Linked DNA regions of Homo sapiens. The protein of the gene in region 1 purifies or fractionates together with the protein of each later gene. This does not show direct contact. Each region holds a gene or a part of one and is shown on either strand. Other genes may lie near its edges. The genes, in order: ZFHX4 and GRHL1.

Region 1 (3,825 bases):
CTCATTCTTTTTGGGCATCTGTAAAAGGAAGGTCACTTCTGTCACAGAAAAGAGTTTCTGCAGTAACTGAAGGACTTTTTCTTCTTCTTATTCTCCCTTTTCCACCCATTGGTTAACATAATCATATTTAAAATAATGGATTCTTGTTCTAAGAATGCCTCTACTAATAATCTCTGGTTTCCTAAAGCAAAAAGATAGGAAAAGAAAAGAGATTCTGTTATTGGAATATTAATCCTGTTTTTGACAGAAAGGTAAACTGATATAATTGCTTTTCAGTTGAAGGAATGGGGGTTTATACAAGTGTGAAAGCATCGGAAAAGGATTAGCATTTTTTTGCATAATGAAAAGCTCTGTTGAATAGGGTCCTGAATGGCTGACTGAATGACTAAGATGAAAGGAAGATGAAAATGCAGGCTTCTCTTTCTTTATGTCTATGCTCCGCTCTCTCTAAAGTTATGTTTGTCCAAGACTTGAGAAAACAAGCAGGGGCTCAGATTTCAGCAACTTTATAAGATGCTGTGTTTTCATCATCATTGGGACGTAATGTGTATGACAATAGTGCAGCTAGAAGATGATCAACAGAGGTTTGTATATAGAAGAGTTTCAGAAACATGCCAGGCTAGCCAAATATTGACTATTGGGTATCAGGAATTCCCAGCACTTTGCTGGCAAAAACAATTATTTTAGAAGAGCCAATAGTATGGTGTGGATATTTAATTCAGTTAATGATGGAATATAAGGTGCCTGTTTTTTTCCCCATAGGCTATAAATAACTATCTCGATTGGTGAAACACTTCACTTGGGAAAGAGTTGTGTAATCTGACTTTTGGCAATGTTAAGTGTTTTAAGTGGTCTATCAGCTTTTGTGGCTGGGAAGGGAGAGAAGAGGGTACTGATGTATTTTCTTAAGATTTAATTCATAAAGTTCTGAATGCAGTCTTCATGTTGCTTTGTAGGTGTATTGTGTATTTTATTTAGAGATAAGTCTTTTTAAAAGTGTCTAGGTATTATAAGTTCACTCTTGGAGACATTTGTAGTAGGGTCCCCTGTCACTAGTTAGGGATGTAACTGGTTATCAGTTGACAATGTGATCAACACTCTTAATGATGTTTCTTCAGCCAGCATTAGGACAGTTAAAATACCATAAGTGTGAAGACTCTTTCAAAGATCGGAATTGGTTCTTTTGTACCTATGTAAATCAAATGCAGTGCAGATAATTATTTATATGTATACATTTTAAACAAGCTCTTTCTGGTTTGAGGTCACCACAAATGATCCACCGATGGCTGTCTCAGAACAAGGTTAGAAGATCTCATCAGATATTAACCCAACTTGTTTGTTGCTAGATTTTAGAACTTCCATTTGCCTCATCACTTTAGCAGTTTTGTTGTTGAGGTACTATTAAGATGGTTAGATGGAAACTTGGGAAATCACAAGTATTTTTACATAAATTAATGTGTAAGGGTTGACTCTTGAGTACAGCATATTGTAAAGGAAAACTGTTTGATCTATGTTATATAGTCCCCCAAATTTTTTACTGGAGTCCTTTTTAAAATTTGTCAAGAAATTCTGGATTGTTTCAGAAACTTTTATGGTTAACTTTATGATATGCTTGAAAAAAGTCTTAAAAGAACAAAAAAATCCACATGGAGGCTATTCTTTTACATGCAGAAGGGCTTATTAAGGTATTTCCATAAGAAAATGTGTTAATTTAAAAAATAAATTCATTTATATTTTAAGACATTGTTAACCAGGCACCATGTGTTGTAACTGGCAGTTTTCCAGCCACCATGGAAGTGGATCACACATGGGTTAATAGTAGCTTATGTGATGTCTGCATTCTTAGGAAATGGGCAAAAGCCCAGGGTATTCTGATATCAAGATTTTAGAAATCAGACAGAAAGCAGAATATGTGTTTATATGTGAACAGATGGACACATGTGAGAACTAAAAGTGCACAATTTCTCTTGGCACTTGTTTTAGTTATCCCTGATGATATAACCAAGATCTTAGTGCACTCACAGTCTTTGATGGCTAAAGACGAAATGGGCTTTTAATGAGGGCTCGATGGCATTATATTCTTGCATAAGGATTGTGCCCCTTGTGATCTTGCTGGACTTGATGTTCTGTTAATTCCCTAGTTTCAGAGGTTCACAAGTTGCCTTGAAAGTTTGATATGGTTTCATATTTGACATACAATCCTCAGTCCAAGAATGGCTGCTCTCTAGTCTCCCTTTCTTTTAAAGGTTTGTGAATAGAATCAAATATTTGCCACTTTAAGGCATATTTGAGTTTATGCACTGGACTTAAAAATGGCTTTGGCACTAAAGTCATATTTAGTAAGCAGCTTATCTCTAATATAATTAACCACTTTAACATTCTAGAGACTGGATAAAATAAACAAATACGATTTAAGAATTTGGGCAGACTGACTTAGTTAATACATCATAATGTCCTGATGGTCCAAGAAAAGTTGTGAGGACGTGTTTTGGTCACTCAGGTTAGCGGTTCACACACCAGCATCATCATTCAGATAATAGATCATTTCTAATGTTTGTCTGACTTGAGGACACAACAGTGCTCAGATGATAATTACTGAATGGTATGCACTGTAGGACATACCTCTAAAGACAACATTTATAGGTTTCATTGTGTTCTAGCTATAAAAAAGAAATCACTCTGCAAATATTTACTCAGGTCTAAATCATTTTAACCAGGGAAAATTGACTTTCAGGTTAAAATATGCATTTTATAACTGCCCATAAAATTCTTTTCCTTCACTGTAAAGAAGAAAGGAAATCCATAGTTCTAACAATGTTAAAATACAAAAACATATGAGCTGGTGTATGCCACCTGGTTATATTGTTAAAAACAAAATGAAACATAACTTCTTAAGAGGGAAGTTTTTGAGGAATCTTAAAGTTTGTCTGCTTGGAAGAATAGGTTGAAAAAGACCAATCATTTTTACATTTCCCATGGTATTTTCATTAAACCTGAAATACTTTGCTAATGTGGATTTTCAAAAATATAGTGCTTAGTAGTTTTTAAAATACCATAAATTTTGGAATAATGCAATTAATACTTAAGATTTCCTGAGCCCATTAATTGAAAATTAGAATTAATCATCTCTTTTGGTTTAGTGGATACAACTGTGTTTCATCATCCCTAACACTCCTACATTCCTATTCAGTAGAGTATATACAGACAGACACACACACACACATACACACACGTCTACCCTCTTTCCATGTTAGGCCTCTCTTTCCTCTTTAGATGCATTCCTAGTGGTAGCTTGTGAAGTTTTCCCTTCATAGGCTAAACTTCTTTCATCTTCTAAGAATTGGCCAATATAATCTCAACAGAAAAGAGCAACTAGGATGGTAAGGCAACTAGAAATTACCAAAATGCCAGAGCCTGGGAAGTGGCCTTACGATCATTCAGTTCAATTAACTCATTTTAAAATATGGGCTATTGAATTAAAGAGAGTTATCTTTGATTACCCAGCAAGGCAGGAAAATGTTGAGACAAGAATTCACATATTCTAACTCTAGGACCAGTGGTCACTCAACTGTATTGGCTATTTGAAAAAGGCTTGTTGAATGAATGAATATGAAGGTTGTGGAGATGGTGAAGAGTTGGAAGGAAAAATGTGCATGATAACCTGTCTTCTCTGAGAGAGTGAGCTCTCTGTTATCGACAGGAGACAAGTAGAATCTGGATGGCCTCTTGTTATTGTGACTGTTAAACATATTTTTGTGTTAAGTAGGAGGTAGATTAGGTGCTCCAAATGGACAAGAAGAGCCTATGATTCATAAAAATACTGAT
Region 2 (3,825 bases), on another chromosome or scaffold:
CATAAATCTTACCCTTCACCCTCCAATTCTTCAGAGGCAATGGGAAGGACCTAAGACCAAAGGAATAGATTGCTTTTCAAATGTATGCTCAAAATGTTTGGCCATAAATGAATTATTCCTAAAATGGAAATAATTTTGAATTTCACCAATCTAATATAAAATCCTTTAGCCTTAGTTTTCAATAACAGATTCTTACAGATGTCTTGAACTCCTTTAACTCAGTGGTTGGGCCAAATCTGGTCTAAAGCCAGTTCATGTAAATAAAGTCTTTACTGAAACAAAGCCACGCTCATTCATTCACATGCTGCTTATGGCCATGTGTGCACTAGTTCGGCAGCACTGAGCAGCACAGTGGAGACCACGGGGCCCCAAAAGCTGAAAACCTTTACGGCCCAGCCCTTCACAAAAACAGTGTGCTAACCCCTGCTCACCTCCAGCTTCCCATTAGAAACTAAATGTACTGGCCATGGCCCCAAGAACTCTGACGAATCTTTAGTCCTTATAAATCTGTCCACAAAGTGCATGAAAGACTGTCTTTTTGATATTTATTTGCACTCAGCATAAAACCATGCTTCATTCTACTGAAGTTTCTATCCCTTGTAAGCCTTTGCCACAAAACAGGGCGTGACCATTTTTTAAAATTTAGTTTTAGTTGCCAAGACATGGCCATTGGTAACTACACGTGGCAAGGACGGCTCAGTAACTGGAACTGTGAGAAAAGCCTTCGGATGTTCTTATGTTATAAGAGCTCCTTAACCTAGGTATTGCCCCAAGTTAAGTTTAAAAAGATGACAGGCTCAAACTCCAAATTATGCTACTATTCTAGAATCTTTTAAATGAGCTAGGATATGTAGGTATGAAGAACGAACGAATGAATGAATGAATACAAACAGAATAAAGCTGACAGGCTGCACTGCACCTTGAAATCAGCGATGCTTACCATTTTTATTGCACGGGCATCATGTCACCCCAGCAGAATATTCCAAAGAGCTGACTAACTGGTCAAACCTCACTCAATTTTGGCTTCTGTTTCCCATGAATAATGCCAAAGAATTTCCTTTTGCCATGCCTTCCTTCCTGGTAACCTCCCCTGGGATCCTGGTTACCTACATGAGTGCCCCGCTGCAAGTTGGCAAAGTGCACGTCAGGAATGAAGAGGACAGGCTGAGTATCGAGATCAATGAAGGGTTTGAAAACTGTGATATCCATTCGCTTGTGAGAGGGAAGCAGTGGCACTTTAACATCAGAAACTGAAAAAAAAAAAAATTAAAAAAGAGGAAGCCAAGGTCAAAGGATTACATACAGACTGGATGCAGGCCACAGAGTGCTCGCCTCTGAGTAAGATACTCCAAGTGTAGCACTCTGTAAGATACAACAGGGCACGCTGCCTGCCTAAGAATCCCAGTTTATGTAAAGGAATTTGTTGTGTGTATTTCCACTAAAATCAACTGAATGTCTTATCAAATCAAAAGGGAAAAGGTATCTTCAAACACACACAGACGCATATCCACAGAAGATTTGCGACAGAGGCAGAGCGTATTTAGTTTTCATTGGAAAGGCTAAAATGTATAATTGTGTAAACATAATTTGGAAGAAATTTCACCTCAGCTGTCCTCATTAAATAATTTACATTCCAACACTCATGGACCCATTGACTTCAGAACATATCAAGAAACTCGACAATGAGGTGAAGTGTAAGCATGCCCATCCAATTTTTAATTTAGTAAGTTAGAGACTCCATCTTCCCCAATGATCTGGCTGGCCCTGAAGTACTCAGTAATGAGGTCTCCTAGTTAGTCAGCTGCTCTCTGAAGTGTCACTGGGAGTTTGTACTTTGATACCAGTAGGAGAATCCTGACTAAGGTGTTGCAGGGCAAATGTCTGCTGAGCCAGACAGACCATTCAAAAGAGCTGCCAGAAGCCCATGTACTACAGATGGAACCCTACAGGCACAGAACAGCACTTTCTTCATTTTAGATACAAGATTTTGTGAATATGAATACTGGTCACAATTAAAAAAAAAAGAAAACAAAGCCTTCCTGGTGAAATGTCCAAACAGAAGCCCTATAGATTCTGCAAATATTAAAATACTATACTTTAGATACAAAATATGATCTTACTTGGAGTTAAGACATCTTGAATTCTCAAGACCATTATTATTACTTTAAAAAATCTAGATAAGTCCCAATTTTAACAGTGATTCATGCAGAACGTGTTGTCATTTTTCAAGACTGGAAACAGAAGTCTGAACTAGAACTGAGAGCCAAAAACGCTGAGGTCGGGAAAACCCAGGGATCTATCCTGTAGTCCCCAGGAAAACCCCTCCCGCTGAGCTGGCATCTGCTGCTGATCTGAGGAAGAGGCAGTGCCACACTGCAGAACAGGAAGAACACCCACTGTCTTCTGCGTGCAAACTCCAGCCACCATTCTCAATGGAAAAGGTCTGAAGCTTGCCGGGAACATTTCTACTTACAGGCATTCACCTGGGAGCTGGGGTCAGGACACTTGCCTTTTCTTTTGCTTTGCTTTCGTTCTTCATCCCTGATTTTCCGCTCAGCTCCCTGTAGGTTAAGAGAAGACAAGATATGATTCTGTTTTCCAATCTTCTTTAAAATATTTAACTCTTATCCTGACCAATGGAAGAAGAAGCCTTTCTCCCTTCTCTGGACAGGAACCCCATTACTTACTATATTCATGAGGCTTATCATAGTAGTTTCTTCTAAAAAGATTAGTCTTAAAATTATTTTTAATTCTATGAAATCACAGGGAACAACATTTATTTGAAAAACAAATAAAGCAAAATTCCGGCCGGAAGCGGTAGCTCATGCCTGTAATCCCAGCACTTTGGGAGGCCGAGGTGGGTGGATCATTTGAGGTCAGGAGTTCGAGACCAGCCTGGCCAACATGGTGAAACCCCACCTCTACTAAAAATACAAAAATTAGCCAGGCGTGGTAGCGGGCACCTGTAGTCCCAGCTACTTGGGAGGCTGAGGCAGGAGAACTGCTTGAACCCCTGAGAGGTGGAGGTTGCAGTGAGCTGAGATCACACCACTGCACTCCAGCCTGGGTGACAAAGCGAAACTCTGTCTCAAAAAAAAAAAGCAAAATTTCTCCTTATAATGGATGTGGTCGTGTTAAATGAAAGCTGAGAAAATCTGTGAGTATACCACATGCCTGCAAAGACACAAGGGTATTTTCCCTTTGTCCAGTAGGAAAAGGAAATGAAAGAAAAAACCCAAGTTGGCCCTACTCTTGAGTATACTCTCCTATATGGCCAAGGTTATCACTGAAGGCTGTGATTCAGTCCAAGGGCCTGGTATCAACCATGTGGCAGATCTAACCAAGCAGAATTCACAAAGTGAAGATGGAACTAGAAATATGCATCATCACTTAAAAGAGAACAAGTGGGCTGGGCGCGGTGGCTCACGCTTGTAATCCCAGCATTTTGGGAGGCCGAGGTGGGTGGATCCCTTGAGGCCAGGAGTTCACGACCAGCCTGGCCAACATGGGAAACCCTGTCTCCATTAAAAATACAAAAAATTTAGCCGGGCGTGGTGATGCATGCCTGTAATCCCAGCTACTCGGGAGGCTGAGGCAGGAGAATCAGTTGAACCTGGGAGGTAGAGATTGCGGTGAGCTGGGATCGCACCACTGTACTCCAGTCTGGGTGACAGAGTGAGACTCCCTCAAAGAAAAAAGAGAAAAAGTGTACTCAGAGTCCTAGAAAAAGACACTCGTGTACTCTGTATATCAACTGCTCAAAGACCGATAGTACCATGCAGCTGAACCCACAACAACAAAGTTCAAAAGAACCATATTAGTAAC

The links.
Region 2: the proteins of ZFHX4 (region 1) and GRHL1 purify together in Homo sapiens (co-immunoprecipitation; one large-scale study listed by IntAct). This does not show direct contact.

Annotation. Positions count from the first base shown.
Region 1 is NC_000008.11:76,687,519-76,691,343, forward strand, and holds part of ZFHX4 (zinc finger homeobox protein 4), read left to right. Parts: intron 1-3,825. UniProt on the Homo sapiens protein: May play a role in neural and muscle differentiation. May be involved in transcriptional regulation.
Region 2 is NC_000002.12:9,989,432-9,993,256, reverse strand, and holds part of GRHL1 (grainyhead-like protein 1 homolog), read right to left. Parts: intron 2,562-3,825; coding exon 2,510-2,561; coding exon of another isoform or gene 2,474-2,509; intron 1,251-2,473; coding exon 1,111-1,250; exon of another isoform or gene 941-1,110; intron 283-940; exon of another isoform or gene 51-282; coding exon 13-50; exon of another isoform or gene 1-12. UniProt on the Homo sapiens protein: Transcription factor involved in epithelial development. Binds directly to the consensus DNA sequence 5'-AACCGGTT-3'.